Homo sapiens: one gene and its partners. The protein of the gene in region 1 interacts with the protein of each later gene in a pairwise test. Each region holds a gene or a part of one and is shown on either strand. Other genes may lie near its edges.

What was found.
Region 2: the proteins of TSNAX (region 1) and MTCL2 interact in binary tests that used the Homo sapiens proteins (3 or more experiments, as listed by UniProt).
Region 3: the proteins of TSNAX (region 1) and CDK5RAP2 interact in a two-hybrid assay, tested with the Homo sapiens proteins (one large-scale study listed by BioGRID).
Region 4: the proteins of TSNAX (region 1) and CHAT interact in binary tests that used the Homo sapiens proteins (3 or more experiments, as listed by UniProt).
Region 5: the proteins of TSNAX (region 1) and MECOM interact in a two-hybrid assay, tested with the Homo sapiens proteins (one study listed by BioGRID).
Region 6: the proteins of TSNAX (region 1) and DNAJB6 interact in binary tests that used the Homo sapiens proteins (3 or more experiments, as listed by UniProt).
Region 7: the proteins of TSNAX (region 1) and TOP3A interact in a two-hybrid assay, tested with the Homo sapiens proteins (one large-scale study listed by BioGRID).

Annotation. Positions count from the first base shown.
Region 1 is NC_000001.11:231,563,169-231,566,668, reverse strand, and holds the end of TSNAX (translin-associated protein X), read right to left. Parts: intron 2,142-3,500; coding exon 1,764-2,141; 3' UTR 145-1,763; downstream 1-144.
Region 2 is NC_000020.11:36,811,539-36,815,038, forward strand, and holds part of MTCL2 (microtubule cross-linking factor 2), read right to left. Parts: intron 1,307-3,500; coding exon 1,166-1,306; intron 1-1,165. UniProt on the Homo sapiens protein: Microtubule-associated factor that enables integration of the centrosomal and Golgi-associated microtubules on the Golgi membrane, supporting directional migration. Preferentially acts on the perinuclear microtubules accumulated around the Golgi.
Region 3 is NC_000009.12:120,570,168-120,573,667, forward strand, and holds part of CDK5RAP2 (CDK5 regulatory subunit-associated protein 2), read right to left. Parts: intron 1,875-3,500; coding exon 1,807-1,874; intron 1-1,806. UniProt on the Homo sapiens protein: Potential regulator of CDK5 activity via its interaction with CDK5R1. Negative regulator of centriole disengagement (licensing) which maintains centriole engagement and cohesion. Involved in regulation of mitotic spindle orientation.
Region 4 is NC_000010.11:49,627,537-49,631,036, reverse strand, and holds part of CHAT (choline O-acetyltransferase), read right to left. Parts: intron 3,430-3,500; coding exon 3,252-3,429; intron 1-3,251. UniProt on the Homo sapiens protein: Catalyzes the reversible synthesis of acetylcholine (ACh) from acetyl CoA and choline at cholinergic synapses.
Region 5 is NC_000003.12:169,083,007-169,086,712, reverse strand, and holds the end of MECOM (histone-lysine N-methyltransferase MECOM), read left to right. Parts: intron 1-1,669; coding exon 1,670-1,804; 3' UTR 1,805-3,206; downstream 3,207-3,706.
Region 6 is NC_000007.14:157,361,004-157,364,503, reverse strand, and holds part of DNAJB6 (dnaJ homolog subfamily B member 6), read right to left. Parts: intron 1,344-3,500; coding exon 1,234-1,343; intron 1-1,233. UniProt on the Homo sapiens protein: Has a stimulatory effect on the ATPase activity of HSP70 in a dose-dependent and time-dependent manner and hence acts as a co-chaperone of HSP70. Plays an indispensable role in the organization of KRT8/KRT18 filaments.
Region 7 is NC_000017.11:18,273,962-18,276,994, forward strand, and holds part of TOP3A (DNA topoisomerase 3-alpha), read right to left. Parts: intron 1,020-3,033; coding exon 841-1,019; 3' UTR 1-840. UniProt on the Homo sapiens protein: Releases the supercoiling and torsional tension of DNA introduced during the DNA replication and transcription by transiently cleaving and rejoining one strand of the DNA duplex.

The DNA of each region.
Region 1 (3,500 bases):
TAACACCCACAGTATTAGTATGACATGAACTGTGGAGATATATCAGTAGCAATGGCACCAACTCACCTGTAGTGAGTTGACTACAGGTGAGTTGCAAAACCAAAAAACCCACCATCACTAACACGAACAAACAAAAAAACAGAATTTACTAGGCATGTCCATGTTTTATTTTCTTTAGGTGTTTTTCTGGAAAATTACATTTTCAAGGAATCAGCCCTTACAAACAGAGCTAATCTTTCAAAAAATAAAACCCAGTATCTAGATTCTCAAAACTTACAAAACCAACTGGAAATGTCTGGTTGTCATGCTCAATTCAGTTTCACATCACAAGTAATCATCTATAACTATTTCAGTAGGCAAATTCCAATTCTAAATATTACTAACGATTACCATTGTTATTCTCAACTGTGTTGACAATTGTCTTATTGCTGAATTGTTCATAATACATCTTCTTTGGCAACTTTATTAACACCATGGGACAACTAAAGGTCTGGATTAACTTAGTATTTCAAAACTTCATTATAATTATTTAAAAGTAAATGCTAGACTTAAATTATTTAAATTTAAATGCTAGATTTAAATTATTTAATTTTAATAAAATTTAAATTTAAATGCTAGAATAGGAAAGCCTCCAAACATGCCTAATATAACAAAAACAAAAATTGCTAAATAATCACTACTAAAAGCATTTCCATTGTATGTACAAGTATATAACTCAACTTTACCAACAAAAATATTATAATTTAGCTCCAATTCTCTATCAGACCTACTGTGATTAAAAAAAAACAAAAAATAAATGGAGAAAGCAACATCTGGGCACCTGTCAAATTTTTATGGAAGGTTGTTTTATATAAATTTTAAATGGCTTAAAATCAGCCAGAATGCGAATTTTTCACTATAATACTTTATAAACTTGTACTTTCTTTTTTCTTTCTTTCTTTTTTTGAGATGGAGTCTTGCTCTGTTACCCAGGCTGGAGTGCAGTGGCGCAATCTCGGCTCACTGCAACCTCTGCCTCCCAGGTTCAAGCGAGTCTCCTGCCTCAGCCTCCCAAGTAGCTGGGATTACAGGCACATACCACCATATCCAGCTAATTTTTGTATTTCTAGTAGAGACGAGGTTTCGCCACGTTGGTCAGGCTGGTCTTGATCTCTTGACCTCGTGATCTGCCTACCTCGGCCTCCCAAAGTGCTGGGATTACAGGCGTGAGCCACCACGCCCAGCCTAAACTTGTACTTAAATTATATATTGATAGCTTATTCATTTTTAATTCTTGTTCCATGGAATAAGCCTATTTTTGAGGCTTGGCACGATATTAACAAGAAATTTAAACAGGACGCTCATGTCCAGAAGTTTAACTAAAAAATCTTTTCTATATATAATATAACTACCAACTTAAATTACAAATTGCTTCCACTAAAAATTATCACTCCAAACTTCAGAAAAAGTAAATTAAAATAGGTTATGGCAAAAGGTACACTCTGAAGCATGTTCACATTACAAAGATAAATGATAAAGGTTAACCAGCAAAAATTCAAAAAGGCATATATGCAAACATCTGTATGCAAACTTTCATGAATAAGATATAAGAAATGATTCATTTGGCTAATTTTATGTACAGCTTGTATACAATTTAAAACAAGTACAACTGAATATGTTTCTATGTAAAAGCCACAATAAAGTTAAATGAAATACTAAATAAGTCTTACAAATTGGTCTCTTAGGAGTTCTCAAAAGAATTAGTAACTGAGTAACGTTAGATTCTAAGAAATGCCCTCTTCTTGATCTATCATTTCTGTTTTAACTGAAAACACATCTGCCAACATATGTTTTGGAATTTCTGACCCTCTGACTTTCAAGGCATAACAAGCATTCTCCACTTTGGCCAAACTTTGTTTCAAGGTATACAGCTTCTTAGAAACCTCGTAAGGTCCAGTGTTGCCAATGAATGAAAACCCATCATAAACCTGACGTAAAAACTGGCTCACTTCAAAGGGGGTATCAATGTCCCCATTCCCCACACTGTTAATACACATCCGCATCAATTCTCCAGTTAAGTCAGCCACTCCCAGAAGGTAATCGACAGGTGTGACTCTCAGTCTCCAAGTACCAAACTGCTTATCCTGTGCATCAGAGGAGGGCTGGTAAAAAAACAAAACAAAACAAAAACACACACACACACACACAAGAAAGAACACTGTGAAAAAGAGTGAATATAGCATGTATCACATTTATTATAGAAGTACAAAATCAATAGCAAATCAGTCATACTAATTTTTTCTAAATAAAATAAATCTGTTTTGCTTAATAACCACTTGGGATGTTACAGGAGGAATGTGTGCCCTGGGTAGTGAAATGAACCAGATGACTTCAAGATACTTTTGAAATATATCATTATGAAACCAACTATTTCCAACTCCACTTGATGTACAAAATAAAAATATTCTTGAACAAGGCTTAATAACTTTATTGCACGACAATTACTTTCTTAAATGAAAAACCATACAGCCCTCCAAGTTTGTGATCCATTAATGTTTTCCTAAGAAGCTCAGTCTTTTTCTGGCTTCTTGTCTTTCCCTATTCAGCACTCACCATCACAATTTATTATTCTCTCACTGCATCCTCAATTCCCTTAGACTGCTATATTTTCTACTGCACCTACCCAGCAAAAACAGAATCCTCAATCAATACTAAAATATACTCATTAGTCCTTTATTCAGGTGGCTGAGTACCACTCACTGAGTTAAAAAAAAATGGTAATCACAACTGCAGAGTCTGTACCGCTACAAATTACTCTCCAATCCTTTTACTTATCATTAGATGGTTCTCTTTCCAGCCTCTTCAAACACAATTTCAAACCTTTCACCACTCTCCTCAGGGCTCTACTCAAATCCCAAACCTCTTCACTTTCAGTAGACAACCTTGCCCAATTTCAGTGACCTGGTCATTTGCCAGCTTACCTAGCACAATTTCTCACAACTGCCTTTATCCCTACCAAAAAAAAAAAAAAAAAAAATTTATATCCACACCCATCTTTACCTTCTATCCTCCAGTCTCAGATGATGAGTTGTCCCTCCTCTTGTTTGAGGTTAACTCTTCCAAATGACCTTGACCCATCTCCTCCCACCTCTTCCAGGACCTTGCTTCATAAGGTGTATGCCCTTGGGCAAGTTATTTCATCTCTCTAAACCTCAGTTTCCTCATCTGTAAAATGGGATAACAGTACCTACCTCAGAGGTTTATTTTAAGGGTTAAATGAGAACATTTACCAAGTTCTTGGCATAATGCCCAACACAAAGTAAATATTCAACAAATGCTAGCTGCTATCATGATATCATCATGAAATCTCTCTCCACATCAATTTCCCTCTACTGAATTCTTTCTGGTAGAGACGATGCCTAAATTGTTATTAAAAGACGGTATGTATAAAAGGGTAGGTGAAGTTGCAGTTACATCAAAGGACATTTTAGGTAGTGGGAACTACAAAGGCATACAGGTAA
Region 2 (3,500 bases), on another chromosome or scaffold:
AGATTCGCTTGAACTCAGGAAATGGAGGTTACAGTGAGCCAAGATCGCACTACTGCACTCCAGACTGGGCAACAGAGCGAGACTCAGTCTAAAAAAAAAAAAACAAAAAAAAGAATAGGCCTATTTCCTTTTCTTAGAAAATGACAACTAAGTTATCTCAGTTTTTTCTCTTTTTGCCATGGCTTCCAGGAAGCTCACTTAGAGAGTCTGATCCATCAGCTTCAAGTGAGCTTCTCCTTCCCACATAGTCATGGGCTGACCTTCCTGGGACTACAGAGTTGTCTTCCAAGAGATGCTCAGAAAGGTGCTCAGGCTGGAAAATACATAGGACTCTGCAAGGTTCAGGGTTTCAGGGATACTCCACCCAGTCCGTAGGAGCCTTTTCCTGCTTCAGGCTCATTATGAAGAGCAAGGAGAAGCTCAGCAGGCTTAGAAGGGGCTCAGAACTACCCAGAATTCCCTGAGGATCAAAGAATCCTAGCAATTCAATAACTACCATTCACTCTAACCCTCCCGTTACAGATGGGGAAGCTGTGGCCAGAAGGTAGAAATCTGTCCAAGGTCACACAGGAACACTGGTAGAACTGAGACTTGAACTCAGGTCCCCTGAGTCCCAGAGATGTGTCATTATCATCATAATCATCCTCCTCCTCCTCCTCATCCTCACCCAATGTGGACCATGCCTTAAGCTATGGCTTTTCATGTATTTAATCCTTTCAACAACCCTGTGAGGCACCTTCATTTTACATGTGAGAAAACTGAGAATCAGAGAGGTAAAATGACTTATCCAAGATCTCACAGCCAGAATAGAGTGGATCCACAATTGAAACCCAAACTGCCTGGCTATAGAGACTGCTGCCTTCCTGCTACATACATGAGTAGTTCCATTAAATTACATAAATTGTTAAATTCCCAGTGGAATTTAGTACAGAAGAAAAAATAATTTATGCAGATGAGTTTATAAGTTTCCTTGGATCAGGCCATGAGAATGTCCCAAACTTCCTTATTTCCCTTCTGGCCTTGGCTGCCAAGAAGCCTGGAACCAAATGGAATGCCCCAAACCCATATCCTCACCAGCTAAGTGATATATGGACCACTCTGCTTTTGACAGGGCTCAGTCACTCTCCTCCTACCCAATCCCATGCTTGCTCAGGCCTAGACCCACCTCAGAGGCATAGGAATCATTGTCTTCAGCTCGGTAAGGCCTGAAGCTCCGGCTGGGGTCGGGCTTAGAGTCCAAGTCACCAGTGCGGAAAGCCTCTCGGATCCTGGGCTCCCATTCCGGCAGGTCCCTGAAGTCAGGTGGCTGCACCCAGAGGCACAGGCAGAACAAACCAAAGATCACCATGGGGAGGGGCCCGAGGGGTGCCAGAAACACCCACCCCAGGCCTCTGCGCTCCCTAAGAGGCTTGAACCACCCACCTGAGGGCTGGGACCCTGGTAGATTCACCTCTGCAACCCAGACCCAGCCCCAGCTGGGGGCACTGCTGCCGTTTAATGAATGTTTGCTGAAAGGATGAATGAGTAGGTAAGTGCGAAGTGATTTTCTGAATGTGTGCCTTGTGCACAAACCTTTTGAGTCAGCCCAAACTGTCCTATCACATGTGTGACCTCTGTTCATCCCTCTTTCAAGAAGAACCAAAAGGGAGATAACATAGAGCAGTCTATGGGCACAGTGGCATGTGCCTGTAATTCCATCTACAATTTGAGGCTACAGCGAGCTGTGATCATACCATTGCCCTCCAGCGTGGGCAACAGAGCAAGACTGTTTCTTTAAAAAAAAAAAAAAAAAAAAAAAAAAGGCAATGTGCTTGCTTAAAAAAGCAAGATGAAACCGGATCAACAGGTCTTGAGTTAAAGAAATTATGGCACATATCCACTGTATAGTTGTTAAAAAGAAAGTGCTAAATCTCAGAAGGGCACGATGGCTCACACCTGCAATCCCAACACTTTGGGAGGCCGAGGCAGGTGGATCACCTGAGGTCAGGAGTTCAAGACCAGCCTGGCCAACATCGTGAAACCCCATCTCTATTAAAAATACAAAAATTAGCCAGGTGTGGTGGGGCATGCCTCTAATTCCAGCTACCCAGGAGACGGAGACAGGAGAATTGTAATTTCAGCTACCCGGAAGGCGGAGACAGGAGGCGGAGGTTGCAGTGAGCTGAGATCGTGCCACCGCACTCCAGCCTGGGCGACAGAGTAAGACTCTGTCTCAAAAAAAAAAAAAAAAAAAAAAAAGATAAAAGAAAAAAAGAAAGTGCTAAATCGCTCTCTTTCCCTGGAAATGAAAAATTCCCTGCCATTGCTCTGAGGATGAAGATCAAACCTCCCGCATGCTCAGTGCAGTCCAGCTTCACATTGTCTCTTCACTCAGTGTCCTGGACACACCACGCTCCTTCCGCCTCTGATCTGAGCTGTGTCTTTGCACAGGCTATTTGCTCTGCTGAAAACACTGTGTTCCCCCAGCCATCCATCCCTCTGACCTCTGGTCAGATCAGAGGCCTTCCCTCAGCATAGGGTCTAGGTCAAGTTCCTTGTTCATAAAACCATGTACGCTTCCTTCAGATTCCTCTCTCAGTGTCTAATTGCACATTCACTGACATGATATTTTGGGTGACTCTGCCCCACTAGATGATAAGGACCATGAGAGGGGGAATCATATCTGTTTTTGCTAATCATGACATCTTCAGCAGTGAGCACAAAAACTGTGTGAACAACAGACAAGGCATCATAAATTAACAAACTGATACATTGCGTTAAAAATATAAGTTGTGTAGTAACAATAGATATAAAGCAATCTGGGTGGAAAAACAAATATATGATAGATGTGTAGAGAAGGATTTAGAAGGACAAGCTGCAAGGATGAAATATTCTAGATCCACTCTACTAGACACACACAAATACTGAACATTTAAAATGTGACTATTAGGCCACACACAGTGGCTCACACCTATAGTCCTAGCACTTTGGGAGGCTGAGGCTGGTGGATCACTTAAGCTCAGGAGTTCAAGACCAGCCTGGGCAATATGGCAAGATTCCATCTCTACAAAAAAATTTAAAAATTATGGCCAGGCACAGTGGCTCACACCTGTAATCCCAGAACTTTGGGAGACAAAGGCGGTCGGATCACTTGAAGTCAGGAGTTCGAGACCAGCCTGGCCAACATGGTGAAACCCCATCTCTACTAAAAATACAAAAATTAGCCAGGCATGATGGAGGGCGCCTGTAATCCTGGCTACTTGGGAGGCTAAGAGAGGAGAATCGCTTGAACCTGGGAGTTGGAGGTTACAGTGAGCCGAGATTGCGCCACTGCATTCCAGCCTGGGTGACAGAGCGAGACTCCGTCTCAAAAAAAATAAAAAATAAATAAAAATTAGCTGGGTGTGGTGGTGCTCACTTGTAGTCCCAGGTACTCAGGAGAGTGAGGGGGGGAGAATGGCTAGAGCCCAGGATATCGAGGCTGCAGTGAACTGAGATTGCACCACTGCACTTCAGCCTGG
Region 3 (3,500 bases), on another chromosome or scaffold:
AAGAGGCTAAGGAGTGGGCAGGGCAGACTGTGAAGGGCACGCTAGTTTGTTTTCCTGTTCCTCAAACGGGCCATGCCCTCACCTGTGTCTGGGATGCTCATCCCCTCCTTTTTCCTTACCTACATCTGACTTATTCAGGTCTCCGCTCCAATATCAATTTCTTGGGAAACTCTAGCCTGACCCACCTCCACACCAGAGGAAATCTCCCTTTAATCCCCTCTCACAGCACTTGATACATCTTTGCTCCTGACACTGACCATACAAATTCTCATAAGGGTTTGTCTGTCTTCTCAGCTTAACAGTAACCACATTTGAGGTTGAATTTTAGCACTGAGCCCAGAGTCTGGCATGAAGCAAATGTATACTATCGGCTAAATTAAGAAATAGGCTGGCCAGGCACAGTGGCTCATGCCTGTAAACCCAGCACTTTGGGAGGCTGCGGCGGGTGGATCACCTGAGGTCAGAAGTTCGAGACCAGCCTGGCCAACATGGTGAACTCTGTCTCTACTAAAAATACAAAAATTAGCTGGGTGTGGTGGCACGTGCCTGTAATCCCAGCTACTCGGGAGGCTGAGGCAGAAGAATTGCTTGAACCCACGAGGCGGAGGTTGCAGTGAGCCGAGATCACACCACTGCACTCCAGCCTGGGCAACAGAGCGAGACTCCATCTCAAATCAGACTTGTTGGATTTTGCATTTAAAGTAAAAGTTGCCAATGAGTGCAGTGGCTCATGCCTGTAATCCCAGCACTTCGGGAAGCTGAGGCAGGTGGATCACTTGAGTCCAGGAATTCGAGACCAGACTGGGCAACATGGCAAAACCGTCCTGCAAAAAATACAAAAATTAGCCAGGTGTCGTGGCACACGCCTGTAGTCCCAGATACTAGGGAGACTGAGATGGAGAATTGCTTGAGTCCAAGAGGTCAAGGCTGCAGTGTGCGTGATCGCACCTCTGCACTCCCAGCCTGGGTGACAGGACAAGACCATGTCTCAAAAAAATAAAAAGTAAAAATAAAGTAAAAGTTAATAGGTTCCTCAGGAAAACATGAAGGTGCCCTGTAAGTTAAGGGATTTTCCAGAAATAAACCGTGGGACTCTTTTCCTGTCTGCTCCAAAATCTCCCTCCTCTTGCACATATCTCAGCACTGTGGAGAAGAGAAAAAAAAGAACAAGTCAAAATATCTTAGAGATATTTTGCAAAAACTAGCACTACCCACAGAGACGCTTAAGCATTCACTTTTTTCAGAAATAAAAATTATGAAGAATGCTTAGCTAGACCCAAACTGCAAAGTCTCCTCATAATCCAGCTTAAACACAGTACGCTACTTATTTACTCAGAGCCGTCTCCTGTGGTCTAACCAGCTATTTGTCTCCAAAGGGCAGGCCCGTGTAGGAATGCGGGGCCTCAGCCGGCAAACAGGATCCAGCAGCCTGCCAGGAAGGCCTTGGCACGCTACAGTCCAGATGGCAGCTCTCCTGGGCCTCCAGCCACTGGCCTAGCTGCCAATTCAATGTCCAGCCTCCGTGCAGTTGTTCAGTTCAGCAAACGCTCACTGAATCCCTATAGCTTTAGTAGCAACAAATGAAACTCATGAAGTATGGCCAAAAGGACAACAATTCCTCTAGTCCAGTGTTTATGAAAGGAGGTGGAAAGCAAATCAATACATACAAAAAATACTGAGCACCTACGGTGTGCCAGTTCAGGGAAGCCTCTGGGCCCCAGAGATATGAAAGCTCAAGATGCTCACAGTCCAATGTCTACTTTCCTTGTTCTTTACTCAAGAGAATGCCTGGTTTTGTGTACTTACGACCATTTCCCAACCCAGCATTGGGGTTGATGCCATCCAGGTCATCTGGTACACTGGGAACAAGGCCACTAGGAGAGAACACATGAGATAAGAGATGAGCTAATGTTTGAACAACAGAGACTGTTAAGACGGTCTGGACTGCACATGACAATCATCCCATGGCCAGGAGGGATGCACACAGCTGGGCTACCTATGTGGCATGAAGCACAGAGGTTAAGAACTCAGGCTTTGGGGCTGAGTTCCAGCTCCAACACTTGATAGCTGAGTGACCTTCAGTAACATCATTCATTCAGTCATACATCAAATGTTCTGTGTGCCAAATATGTGCTAGTGGCAGAGGCACTGTGACAAGTACAAGATACTTATGTTTCTGAGTCTCACCCTCTTAATCTGGTACATGAGGATACCATGCCCTCCCTGTAAAAATTAAATTCGTTCATGTATATAAACACAAAGCACATAGTAAGTATTCAGTAAACGGCAACTATTGTTGTTGTTACTATTATCATTATGACTACTAATATGCCTATCACCACCTCTGGGAATCAGACACCAATTTAGATGTTTTAAGAATGTCAAACAATGCAAAATTCACTGATCCAAGAAGTTGTCTTGGTTGAATTACATAAATAAATTCAGTGAGGATCTGGAGACACTGACAGAAAACTAACCCATAATAGGAGGTGTGGTGTGACACAAAAGACACTACCCTGATCTATTCTAAGCTCTGCCATGTATCTCTCTGAGCCTCACTTTCTTTAGCTGTAAAATGAGTACAGCAGCTACCTCACAGAGTAACTGGCAATTAAACAAGATATTGCAAGGTACCTTGTGGGTACTCCACAAATGGGAGCAAAATATCATGTCGCCTTGAAACCTACAGTGCTTTACAATTTATAAAAGATTTACCATCATTAGAATTGCCTAATTCCCTGAGGGTGCACACATTTTTCAAAGGAAGGCCCCAAGGCCCAGACAATTTTACTGTCCTAGCCAGGGTCACATGGCGGTTCTGTGGAGAGCCAGGTCCAGAAGCCAGGTCTTTTATGTCCAACTCCCACGAATACTTCCCTATCCCACACTGTAAAGTAGGAGTTGATGGAAACAGCTTGACTTCTTGGCAATTTGCTCTTTCCATGCCTCTAAATCCAAATTCATTGTGCTCCTAGGATAATTTTGCCTGACCACCAAACTTTGGAGTTGGAATGTACCTTCAAGATCAAAAACAGGCAAAAAATTGGAAATATCATAAAATTCCAACATTAAGAAAATGATCACAAAAAAATGTGTCCGGGCTGGGTGCAGTGACTCATGCCTATAATCCCAGTATTTTGGGAGGCCAAGGCTGGTGCATCACTTGAGATCAGGAGTTCGAGACCAGCCTGGCCAACATGGTAAAACCCCATCTCTAATAAAAATACAAAAATTAGCCGGGCATTGTGGCAGGTGCCTGTAGTCCTAGCTACTTGAGAGGCTGAGGCAGGAGAATCACTTGAACCCAGGAGGCAGAGGTTGAAGTGAGCTGAGATCATGCCACTGCACTCAAGCCTGGGTGATAGAGTGAGACTCCATCTCAAAAAAAAAAAAAATTTAAAAAAAAAAGTGTCCCCTGTAAAGGTAAATGAAAAAACGTAAACAGAATATGTCCTCAATTATGAAAACAAATATATACAGTACATAAATACTGAAGTCAC
Region 4 (3,500 bases), on another chromosome or scaffold:
TAATTAGCCTCTCCTAAAATGTATCACTTTGAACCTTCATATATGAGCTCAACACAGTCCATAAATCTTATCAAGTTTTTCAAGTCTTCTTTCCCACTTTCCAGGAGGCTATTTCACACAGTCGATTTCATCTTCAACATCCAACTGCCCGCCTCTTATCTCAAGGTTGTGATCTGAGACCAGGAGGTACCAGTTGGGAGCCTCTGCATGCTCCTACCTCTGCTGCCTCAGGCCCAAGCTTTCCACTTCACCCTGTACCAACCAAAGGCCTCTTATTTTCTGAGTTCTATCTCCTTTTGCCTTTGCAAGAATTCCACCCCTCCATTCATCTCCTATCTCTTCATCAATTTCTTTTACTAAATTCCTTCCATACATTTGTCTCTCCTCCTAAAAACACCTCCCTTGACCCTCATCCTCTTTTAGCAACTCCCTCATTTTTCTGCTCCTTTTAGTGTCAAAATGTCTGAGAAAAAGTCGACCATACTCACTGGTTCAACTCACTGACTGCCTCATCGACAATTTCTTTCTGCTGTTGGATCACTTCTGTCAGTGTGCAAGCATTTGTTCTCCTGCTACTCCAGTCTGACCCTCAGTAAGCCCAGTGACAACTTCAGGGTTGCCAAGCCGGGTCCCCTGTGTCCTGTTCCTCCTCCAGCTCTCCACAGCATTCCATGTGGCTGGCCGTTCCCTCTGTCTTGAATCTTTGTGACTCTTCTGGCTTTCCTTTACTTCATGGGCTACTCTTTCTCAATCCCCTTTGCATCCTTCTCTACCTGACCTCCAGGCTCCCTGTTCTTCTGTTTCTAGATTATCTCACCCAGGTCCATGACTTTAAGGATCATTTATGCGCTGATGTCCCTCAAATTTATTGCTCTGTACTGACCTCTCCCTTGGGCTCCAAACATATATATTAAGCTTGACGTCTCCACCCAGATGACCCAAGCACCTCTAACCCAACATGTGTGGCAATGATTTCTCCATCCTGTACCCACTCCCCGACCCTGTTTCCCATCTTACTAAATGGCACTAACATCCACTCACGGCTCGGATAAAAAGCCCAGGAATTGTTCTCGCTTTCAATGGCCTTGACGTCACTGGTCTCTCCATCTTCACTCTCAACCCTGTCCCAAGCTGCCATACTCTTTCACTGGGAAACCGAAATCATTTTGTAAATGGTCTCTCTGTTTCTGTTCCATAGGCAGGGCTGCTCTGGGGAGGGGGGATCTGTGAAGGATCAGTTTCCTGTTGTGTAGATGACACAGTTGGCGCTAACTGGATTAATCGGATTACCCAAGGGGAGGCGCATGTGTCCCCTCCTTTCTGTCGCATTTCCCTCAGAAACAGCACTTCCATTCAGAAAGCCAGATCAAGTGCCATTAACAAATCAATTCTGATCTGCAGCCCAAGTGCTCAGACCTTGGGGCAATCCAGCCAGCCCTGAAGGGCGTGTCTTGGGCCTGGCCTGCTAATAAAGTGGAAACTATGCTGGAGGCAGAGGCGATTATTTTGATGCCTGTCTCTGTCCCTGAAGGGGAGAAGAGTGGGATTTGATTACACCATGGTCTCCCGAGGGAATTAACTCACTGCGGAATGCTAAGTTATTAATTCTCCAGCACGAGGTTAGGTCCGGGAGGGCAGTCAGCTCTCACACCCCTCTTTGGCTCCTGCAGCCCCCTATTTATGACAGCATTCAGGAGGTGCCCAATAATTGGATGAAAGAATAATTAATTGGTAAGTCGGGGAATAAGTCTGGGGCCTGGCATTTTTAATCACCCTTCACTCTTTTATTTAATAAATGTAACTGGGCCCAGACTGTGTTTCTCAGAAATTAAACCAAACAGACAAGGCCCCTGTCCTTCTGACCTTATAGGCAGTGGGTAGGAGGTGGGGGGAAAGGCAGATAATCAGCATTTATCAAACAAATGCAAAGTTGTCCTCAGAGAGTGAGCAACAGAGTCAAGGTAAGCGAACGGGCCACAGTGACAGAGTGTGCGGGAAGGATGCCCAAGGCAGGCCTGAGGCCGGACACCTGGGCTGAGCTCTGCGTGCGGCAAGGAGCCAGCTGGATCTGGGGGAAGACCCTTCTAGAGAGAGACCAGAAAATGCAAGTGGCTGTTAGAAAAAATAGGCCCAGTACATCCGGCTCAGGCCACCTTTGCTGGGCAGCTATTCTCCTCCTCACCCTGGGGGTAAGGTGGGTGTGTCCCTGCTGGGCCTCGGGCTTTGCCCAGGGTTGGTCTGCCTGCCTGGGTACCATCCTTCCCTCCAGCCTTTCTCACTCATGCCATGGGGCTTTGTTCCATTCCCACCTCTTCTAACAGAGCCTTTCACAATCCCACTCGGAAGGGCTCCGTCCCCTCTCTGAAGTCCTGGAGCACGTTTTTGACGCCTGTCTGAAGTGGGTCAGCACTGCATGCACCTGGATGTGAGTCTCCTCCCCATGCCCCCTCTTCCTGTTCCCATCATGGGGCTGCTCTTGGGTAGAGGCCTCAACTCCTTTGTCTCCCATACTCCCTGAGCCAAGCCCAGGGCCCTCAGTAACAGATGTGGAGAGTCTGAATAGATTGCCTGACCCAGTAAAATTCTGAGGGGTAAATAAAGACTCACAGAAGTCTTGCTTCTCATCCAGTGTCTCTAACATGGGCAAGGAAGGAGAGCATTCCATCAGCTCCTGGAATAGGACCAGCTTTGGATTTGAAAGTAGTTTCCAGAAGGGTGATGAAAAATTTTCAAGAATATTCCTGGCTTTCTTATGGGAATGCTTGGAGACTTTCATCAGAACAGTGCCACAAGATAAGGGACAGCTTGAAGATGAAGAGTCCCAGGATGGAGAGATCAGGTGAAAGAGGTGGTGAACCACTTTCCCAGAGGCAGGCTCCATCCCACACCCCCATTCAGCGACTCCCCCAGCCACTATCAGTGAGCGCCACCCACCAGGAAAACACACCTGCTCACTTGCAGCCAGCCTTCCTCCAGCTAACTCCCCCGCCCCGCCCAGTATTCTCAGACATCCCCAATTCCAGCACTAGTTAGTCCCACCAAGAAAGCCAGATACTGTCAGATGGAACACGAGGGCACAAAAGGTGGCTTCGGTGGCAAGGCACTGTGGCTGGCCGCAGGGCATGCTGTGGGCCCTGAGCTCCCACACTATGGCTGATGGGGATGAGGCCCTGGCCCAACCCTAGAGGAGGGAAAGCCAATGGGCACGAGCATGAGATGGGCATGGAGATGTGCTGGGCACTGCGGCTGACCTTTCACGAGGACCGTCCTGGCCTCGGCCCACTCGCTCCTCCCGTCAGACGTCAGCAGGCCAATTGGAGGCAAACGCTCGTCCTCGTTGGAAGCCATTTTGACTATCTTTCTCAACTGAGTGAACAGATCCCCCTCACTGAGACGGCGGAAATTAATGACAACATCCAAGACAAAGAACTGTGGGGTAAACAGGTCAAACATGTCACTTGTTGGGTGGCCCGTGGCACCAGGCCTTCACTCAGCCTTCA
Region 5 (3,706 bases), on another chromosome or scaffold:
GTAAAAATTAATTTCATGGTAATAGGTACTATTTATGTATTACCTCAGTCAGGCACACTGAGCTAAACACTTTATGTAAGTTAGTGCATGTGATTCCTCCACAACTCTTGGAGGCCAATACTGTTATTACTATCATCTGTTTTATAGGAGGAAAGTAAAGCTTAAAAGGTTAAGCAACTTGCTCAAGATCACACAGCTAGGTGAGTAGAGGCAGGTTTAAAGGCAGGATTAAAATTTAAATTCCAAAATTTTCTTTGTACTCCTTTTTATCTTCCCAAATATCAGAATTTGTTTTAACTCTTTCAGAGTACTCTTTATCTTGTTCTCTAAAAGTAGGTACATAATCAGAATAGATAATTTAGGTTGAATGCTCACTTAACCCATACTTTAAACTCTGCCAAAGATAAGTACTCTATATTATTTATTCTTAATTTCTTAGGATCTATCACAGAGCCTGGCATAGAGTAGATGCTTAAGAAATATTTGTTAAATGGATCATGAGATATTGTAGAAGTCCAAAAGGCAAATTGCATACATAAAAGTCAAATGTGTACATTTAGAGCGATGACCCAGCAAATCAAAAATCAGCCTACAAGGGTAAATTTTCTAACTAAATGCAATGATTACGGAAGAAACCACAGACTGGCCACATGTCTCAGCATGACTCCCAGAGATGAAATTCTGCCTAACAACAGAGGCATTTTGTCTTTGTTTACAGACAGTGGAATGTCTTTGGCAGGACTTTAATGATTCCACTTCAGCAGCATTTTGACAAGCAAGTTTAGCAATGGATGAGACCAACAATAGCAAATCAACAGTGAAAAGTTCACTTACAAGTCAAGACCAAACATTTCATTTGAATATTTTGCTTGGCAGTAAATAGGGGACTCTCTGAACAGTTATTTAAAATTTGACATGATAATAGGGAAGAAAGAGTACTTCCTCACAGAGCACCTCCATGCACCTTCTGCTCAGCAGACACTGGAAAACAAGTTGATTAGAACACTGTTGGGTCTTGTGTTTGGTTTTATTTTTTTGGTAGAGCTGATTTGATCCACCTCAACTTATGGGTGCCAGGACTGAGTATGTCAAGCATGGAGGGAAATTGGAGAAAAGACAATGGATTAAAAGTTGGGCAGAAATACATTTTAGTTATGCTTCTCCCACTATCTATCTAATTGAGTGACTTTGGGCAAGTCACTCAAGCACCTTCAGTGCTTTCGGTTATAAAGTGTAGGAGTCAGGCTGTATCCTCTACTAGGCCACAGCTCTGTCAAGGTAGGTCTATATCTTATTAATATTTGAGGTTTCAGTCATAAGCACACAATAATATTTTTGGTGAATTGAACATATGTAGTGGATGGATGACTGTATTTATAGTTGAACAGGAGACTGACTCATTTTTCTCAATGGAAGCACTATTTGCATTTTAGGTAGGATAGTTCTTTTTGGTTCTGTAGCGTGTGTCACTTTTGGGGCCCCTAGGCACTAAAGGCCAGCAGTAATCCCATGTGGTTTCTACAAAAAATATGCCTTCTTTGCCAAACACACCCATGAAGGATGCCCCTACTCAGGGTCCCATCCCTTTCCATTTACCAACAATATTCTTTGAACTAAAAGTGATGTTTTTCAAATGCCATTTACTGAGTCTCTCTCCTTTTTACCCCAGGCATATGCTATGATGCTGTCACTGTCTGACAAGGAGTCCCTCCATTCTACATCCCACAGTTCTTCCAACGTGTGGCACAGTATGGCCAGGGCTGCGGCGGAATCCAGTGCTATCCAGTCCATAAGCCACGTATGACGTTATCAAGGTTGACCAGAGTGGGACCAAGTCCAACAGTAGCATGGCTCTTTCATATAGGACTATTTACAAGACTGCTGAGCAGAATGCCTTATAAACCTGCAGGGTCACTCATCTAAAGTCTAGTGACCTTAAACTGAATGATTTAAAAAAGAAAAGAAAGAAAAAAGAAACTATTTATTCTCGATATTTTGTTTTGCACAGCAAAGGCAGCTGCTGACTTCTGGAAGATCAATCAATGCGACTTAAAGTGATTCAGTGAAAACAAAAAACTTGGTGGGCTGAAGGCATCTTCCAGTTTACCCCACCTTAGGGTATGGGTGGGTGAGAAGGGCAGTTGAGATGGCAGCATTGATATGAATGAACACTCCATAGAAACTGAATTCTCTTTTGTACAAGATCACCTGACATGATTGGGAACAGTTGCTTTTAATTACAGATTTAATTTTTTTCTTCGTTAAAGTTTTATGTAATTTAACCCTTTGAAGACAGAAGTAGTTGGATGAAATGCACAGTCAATTATTATAGAAACTGATAACAGGGAGTACTTGTTCCCCCTTTTGCCTTCTTAAGTACATTGTTTAAAACTAGGGAAAAAGGGTATGTGTATATTGTAAACTATGGATGTTAACACTCAAAGAGGTTAAGTCAGTGAAGTAACCTATTCATCACCAGTACCGCTGTACCACTAATAAATTGTTTGCCAAATCCTTGTAATAACATCTTAATTTTAGACAATCATGTCACTGTTTTTAATGTTTATTTTTTTGTGTGTGTTGCGTGTATCATGTATTTATTTGTTGGCAAACTATTGTTTGTTGATTAAAATAGCACTGTTCCAGTCAGCCACTACTTTATGACGTCTGAGGCACACCCCTTTCCGAATTTCAAGGACCAAGGTGACCCGACCTGTGTATGAGAGTGCCAAATGGTGTTTGGCTTTTCTTAACATTCCTTTTTGTTTGTTTGTTTTGTTTTCCTTCTTAATGAACTAAATACGAATAGATGCAACTTAGTTTTTGTAATACTGAAATCGATTCAATTGTATAAACGATTATAATTTCTTTCATGGAAGCATGATTCTTCTGATTAAAAACTGTACTCCATATTTTATGCTGGTTGTCTGCAAGCTTGTGCGATGTTATGTTCATGTTAATCCTATTTGTAAAATGAAGTGTTCCCAACCTTATGTTAAAAGAGAGAAGTAAATAACAGACTGTATTCAGTTATTTTGCCCTTTATTGAGGAACCAGATTTGTTTTCTTTTTGTTTGTAATCTCATTTTGAAATAATCAGCAAGTTGAGGTACTTTCTTCAAATGCTTTGTACAATATAAACTGTTATGCCTTTCAGTGCATTACTATGGGAGGAGCAACTAAAAAATAAAGACTTACAAAAAGGAGTATTTTTCCCCACTGTGTGGTATTTTTCCTTCATGCAATTTTACTTTCCCTTTGGGATCCAATGATTTAAAGATATGATGCTGAGATCTTGATGCCCTACAGATATGTGGAATGTAGAGTATGTTTGTTTTGTTTTGAGATAGCATAAATGATAGTTCTTGGGCAACAATGAGTCTCGCTTATTGTTCTGTACTTTCCCCATGTGGTGCAGTCAGGGCTCAAGTGCACCACAACCCAGTCCTGGTATCACTTCACGTTCACAGCATCCACTTAAATTAGGACAAAGAGCGACTTACAGGTTTTCTACGGATTGTATGCCAAAAGGAACTCAGTTTCTTATTTTTGTTTTTCATTATACGAGTAGTGTTAACTGATTCACAAAGGGGGGAAACCTTTGACTTTTCTATGCTCCTTTTAATTTTTTGTCCACATGCAAAATATCCTTTTTTCATTGTTATAACTGCGTGTAAACAAGATTTATTTTTTCTTTCTTTGCTTG
Region 6 (3,500 bases), on another chromosome or scaffold:
GTTCAAGGCCTCCCTAGGAAACATAGCAAGATCCTCTCTCTTTAAAAAAAATAAACTTTCCAATGAATAAGCTCAACAGTTCAAGACCTTAAATGCCACATTTCAAGAAGACTTCAAATATCGGTGTTTTTATGTCTTTTCATATTTTTTGAAGTAAAATGTTTGGAATTTCCTCTAAAACAAAGGGGGTGGGCCACAGTGTCACCAGAGAAAGCAAGGCTGGTGGTGTGCTGGTAGCTGTTGAAGGTGGCAAGCTTACACTGGGTTCCTTCTGATTGGTTTGGTTTTGTTTTGTTTTTTGGAGACAGTCTCGCACTGTCGCCCAGGCTGGAGTGCAGTGGCGCAATCTCGGCTCACTGCAACCTCTGCCTCAAATTGGGTTCTTTAAAAAAAAAAAAAATTTTTTTTGTTGTAAATAAGGGCCAATTACCTGACCACATGCAGATACACTTAACCAAGTGCCCACTTCCAGGGTTCAGTTAGTCCATCCCTAACCTTGGAAAAGCCTCGGCCTTTGCTCACAACAGGCCACCCAGCACTGCAGCAGACAGGGGCACTGTGTGGCTTTCCAGTTCTGTCACTGTTCCCCCACCCCAGGCCCCATGCACAGCCTTTACTTCCCCCATGGAACCCTGACTGCATCTAGGCGACAGCTGACCTCTGACCCCTCACCCATTTGTGAACTAGGCCAATGGATCTGACTTCCAGTAACATAGAACACCTCTGCTCCAGACCTAGGAGGGGAAAACAGGCCTGAAACTGGAAATCTAAATTTTAGCTGTATGTTCCATCCCCTCTTTTTGGGAACTAATGACATCCTCTCAAGCAGTAAAGCTGACTCCACTGGAATGGTATTGTTTAAGCCAGTGGGGGTGAGCAAGGTCAGAATGATCACACACAACGGGGGCAAGCACGCCACATGCACAGTGACCTGAGTCCCGCAACCTCCTCTCTCCCAGGTTCCTCAAACCCAGGATGTCTAGTCCCGCTTTTAAAACAGCCATCCTAGGAGAAACTACTAGAAGCCCTGGAGCTCCCCAGCACTCGTGGTTACCTAAATCAATTCAAATCTTCACGAGAAAAGTAAAAATCTCTTAGAAGGGCCCAAAATCCAGTAGGCATCAAAAACAAGTCACTTGAGTCCATACTGTGCTACCCTGAGGAGGATCCCAACACCCACTCCGCATTCCGGCATGCCCGCTCAGGGTCCTTCAGCAGCTCGCTGTCACTCACCATCCGACAGCACTTCATATGCCTCCGCTACTTGCTTGAATTTTCTCTCTGCTTCTTCTTTATTCTCAGGATTTTTATCTGGATGCCACTTCAGTGCCAGTTTCCGATATCTTGGAAAGAATAAAGGATATAGATCACATTCTAAATCCAGAAATCAACTATGCTTTTGAAACTAACATCATTAACCACGAGAATGGCTTCAGAGCTGCCAACTGGTGAGATGAATACTGGTTTTAACTGTAAAACCTCCCTTTCCTCTACAATGAAATACACAAAGTTCTAAAATCCAGATAGCCAGGCGTAGTGGCGTGCAGCCACAGATAGACCCAGCTACTCCAGAGGCTGAGGCGTGACAACTGCTTGAGGCCAGGAGTTCAAGGCTACAGTGAGCTATGATCACACCACTGCAGTCCAGCCTGGGCGACAGAACAAGACTGTCTCAAAATTAAAATTGTAAAAATACTCATTAAAGTAAGTTTTAGAATAAAAATCCTGATAGCATAATACAAACGAACCTCTAGAGATAGAAAAATAAAGATCACAGTGTCCACAACGTGGACTGACAGTGACAAGACTGAGCAAGTATGTGAAGTAAAGGAGAAAGGCCAGGCGTGGTGGCTCATGCCTGTAATCCCAGCACTTTGGGAGGTGGGCAGATCACCTGAGGTCAGAAGTTCGAGACCAGCCTGGCCAACATGGAGAAACCCCAACGCTACTAAAAATACAAAATTAGCCGGGCATTGTGGTACTTGACTGTAATCCCAGCTACTCAGGAGGCTGCGGCAGGAGAATCACTGGAACCTGGGAGGCAGAGGTTGTGGTGAGCCGAGATCGCACCATTGCACTCCAGCCTGGGCAACAAGAGCGAAACTCCGTCTCAAAAAATTTTTAAAAAGGGAAAAAAAGGCCTGGGTCACTGAGCAGCAAGATCCAACATCACCATTCATATCCTTCCATGTTCTGATTCCCAGGACCCTACTTCCTCAGCCAGCCCCACTACCTAGCTCATCTGTGTGCCAAAGGTGAATCACCTGCCACCCAACAGGCCAGGATCTCAGAATCTTTCAAACACCCTCTGTGCCAGATTCAAGATCTAAACAGAGTTAAAACACTGACTTCTACAAAGATTCTATGACCAAGGTCATATTCTGTTGCAGAGTTCCAACTGACCAAATAATTGCACGCTATTTAAATACAAAAAAAAAGGCCGGGTGCAGCGGCTCACACCTGTAATCCCAGCACTCTGGCAGGCCGAGGTGGGTGGATCACCTGAGGTCAGGAGTTCGAGACCAACCTGGCCAACATGGCAAAACCCCATCTCTACTAAAAATACAAAAAGCCGGACATGAAGGCACGCACCTGTAATCCCAGCTACTCAGGAGGCTGAGACAGAAGAATTGCTTGAACCCAGGAGAAAGAGGTTGCAGTGAGCCAACATCGTGCCACTGAACTCCAGGCTAGGTGACAGAGCGAGCCTCCGGCTCAACATGAATGCATGAATGAATGAATGAATGAATGAATGAATACAAAAAAATCCTCTAGTCTAATTAGCAAAACCTAAGCAGCATATATTCAAAAGGAGGGTAACGTTAAAAAAGAGAAGCAGCATACCCCTCAAAATTTCAGACTAGTATACTAATCTGACAGTGCTTTTAACACTAGGCAAGTTATTACTGTAAAGCTGTTGTGGCTCAATTTAACTTACAACATGTTCAACAAAACCTTGGCTTAACCATACTAAAATCTGATTAAAGCTGGAGTCCAGAATACTTAACAGTAATTTATGTCACTGTGGACCTAAACAAACATGTAGCAGCCGGGCGCAGTGGCTCATGCCTGTAATCTCAGCACTTTGGGAGGCTGAGGCAGGCAGATCACGAGGTCAAGAGATCGAGACCATCCTGGCCAACATGGTGAAACCCCGTCTCTATTAAAAATATAAAAATTAGCTGGGCATCATGGCAGGCGCCTGCAGTTCCACCTACTCGGGAGGCTAAGGCAGGAGAATCGCCTGAACCTGGGAGGCAGAGGTTGCAGTGAGCCGAGATCACGCCATTGAACTCCAGCCTGGGTGACATAGCGAGACACCGTCTCAAAAAAAAAAAAAAACGTGTAGCAGTGGATCAAATAACCCTAAATGTGCCAGAAATCCTCAGTCAAAAATAACAGACCATACAAAAGACAAAAGAGAAAAAATGATTAGTGTGCAGTACTACCTATCATCTAGTGTTCATATGAAAACTTGGCAATGGATGAGAATGCAGGAC
Region 7 (3,033 bases), on another chromosome or scaffold:
TTTTTGAGACTGAGTCTCGCTCTGTCGTCCAGTGGCGCAATCTCAGCTAACTGCAACCTCCGCCTCCCGGGTTCAAGCAATTCTCCTGCCTCAGCCTCCTGAGTAGCCGGGTCTACAGGCGCACACCGCCACACCTGGCTAATTTTTTGTATTTTAGTAGAGACAGGGTTTCACCATGTTGCCCTGGCTGGTCTCGAACTCCTGAGCTCAGGCAATCCGCCCCCCACAGCCTCCCAAAGTGCTGGGATTACAGGCATGAGCCACTGCACCCGGCCTGGGTTCTTTATTAAAGCAATGAATTCTGGATGTCCTGGCTTAACTAGATTAAGAGGGAATGAAGCTTCTTCTGAAGGATCAGTGTTACCACAGCCATTTCCTTGCATTACACCGTCCTTCTCAGGACGTCTATGAGAAGCCCTGGGCAGCCTGGACAGGGACTGCCCCATGAGTGCTGGTGGCTCACTTGGGGCTTTCTGCAGGTGAAGGAAGCAGCCCTGGGAGCTTCTTCCTTTGGCACACAGTGGGCTTCAGCTGGGACTGCACCAATCCTCTGCTAACAGCAACCATCCTTGGGGGGTCCGAGGGAGCAGCTGCGTGACTTTTCAGCAGTGGCTATGGTCACTCCTGAGGCCTGGGAAGAGGGTCACTGTCCAGCAGAGCTGGCCTGCTCCAGAGTGATCTGGACCTTGTGCCCCTTAACACAAGAAGGCCCGACTCCAAAGGCCAACACTGTCCTCTAAGTTTCCAGGACACTAAATGGCCACTTGGTCCTGGTTAACTCATTTCTAAACACAAAGGGGACAGGTCTGAGAAAGTGGCGTTCTCTACCCTACCCTGAGCTCATCTGTTCTGAGGACAAAAGGGACGGGTGTGTCCAGGCTGGTGGCAAAGGCTGCATTTCCGGGGTTTCTTTGCTGTGGACCCCATGTCTGAGGAACTGGCCCGGGGCCTTTTGCTTCTGGCTTCCGACTCCAGGGTTCTTCCTCTGTCTCCTGTCCAGGACGGGGCTCCAGAAGTCCCTGTCGGGAGAGTCAGGGGAGGGGTGAGGTTAGAACTGACATGCAGAAGTGGCAAGTCCTGAACACGGTGGCTCATGCCTGTAATCCCAGCACTTTAGGAAGCTGAGGGAGGAGGATTGCTTGAGCCCAGGAGTTCAAGATCAGCCTGGGCAACATGGTGAAACCTTGTCTTTAAAAAATGCAAAAATTAGCCAGGTGTGGTGTATGCCTGTGGTCACAGCTACTCGGGAGGATGCCTGAGCCTGGGAGGCTACAGTGAGCTGTGATCACACCACTGCACTCCAGCCTGGGCAACAGAGCAAGACCCTGTCTCAAAAAAAAAAAAAAAAAAAAAAAGAGCAGCAGACGATAAGGCTGAACCAACTTTTTTTTTTTTTTTTTTTTTTTTTGAGATGGAGTCTTCGCTCTGTCACCCAGGCTGGAGTGTGGAGTGCAGTGGCGTGATCTCCACTCACTGCAAGCTCCACCTCCCGGGTTCACGCCATTCTCCTGCCTCAGCCTCCCGAGTAGCTGGGACTACAGGCACCCGCCACCACGCCCGGCTACTTTATTTTTTGTATTTTTAGTAGAGACGGGTTTCATCATGTTAGCCAGGATGGTCTCGATCTCCTAACCTTGTGATCCGCCCGCCTTGGCCTCCCGAAGTGCTGGGATTACAGGCGTGAGCCACCGTGCCCGGCCTTTTTTTTTTGAGGTGGAGTCTGGCTCTGTCGCCTAGGCTGGAATGCAGTGGTGCAATCTTGGCTCACTGCAAGCTCCGCCTCCCGGGTTCACGCCATTGTCCTGTCTCAGCCTCCCGAGAGTAGCTGGGACTACAGGGACCGACCACCATGCCCGGCTAATTGTTTGTATTTTTAGTAGAGACGGGGTTTCACTGTGTTAGCCAGGATGGTCTCGATCTCCTGACCTCGTGATCCACCCGCCTCGGCCTCCCAAAGTGCTGGGATTACAGGCATGAGCCACCGCGCCCGACCGGCTGAATCAGTTTTTATACAGCCATGTACACCCCACCAGCCAGCCTCCCTTCACACTGTGTCCAACTCTGTAAGGTTGAGGTGCGATGTGCCTGCTGCCTTATGTTACCTGACACCTCTCCCTCAAGAATCCTAAGCTTTGGAGACATTGTCCCACACTCACTTGGTAAGTGGACTTTCATGCCGGCCCTTTTTACAGAGGCAGAAACCCAAGCAAGCTGGCCTGTGTGGTAGGGTGGGAAAGACAAGCAGCCTATGACCGGCAACCTGCGGCCCACCTCCATGCAGGAAAGTCCAGCTCTGGATCCCTTCCTGTCCCCTCAACAGGCCTTTCCAGACCAGCTGCTCATTTACCCAGGACAGTCAGTCAGCCAGCCTGGAGGTCAGATACCATGTCCTTCCAAGTGGGGAGACAAGAGGCCAGACTGCATCTCACTTCAAATGTGGGTCTCTCACTGCAATGGCCATCTCTGGGCCCCATTAGCACTGGTAGCCAGTTCCAAGTCCCACAGTTTTTACCAAACCTCTGGTTTCTTTCTGTGCATGCCGGGCTAGTGACACATGTGTAAGAATCATAGTCTGAGACTAAACTCCTTTCTAAAACAGGAACCCTATGAATGTAGGCAGGGACCATCTTGTTGAGCAAACTTGAGGCAGAGAGGCTAAGTCATTTGTTCAAGGTTATACTGCTGAGCTTTGGAACCAGATTTGCTCAACTCCAAAGCTCCCACTAGGCCTTTGGGTCATTCTCAGCTACTTAAGCTCTGTTGTGCACTGGAGCAGGAGGAACCATTCAAAGTGCCTCCACGTACACCATTCAACTTGATGCAATGTCCAGGTGCCACTTCTCATGACACCCAGTTCCCGGACATTGGCCCAAGCTGTGTCACCCTGGGCAGGTTCCTAAATATCATCGGGGTTGGCATCTTCATCTGAAGAAATGAGGCTGGGCCAGGCACGGTGGCTCACGCCTGTAATCCCAGCACTTTGAGAGGCCAAGGCAGGTGGATCACCTGAGGTGGAGTTCGAGACCAGCCTAA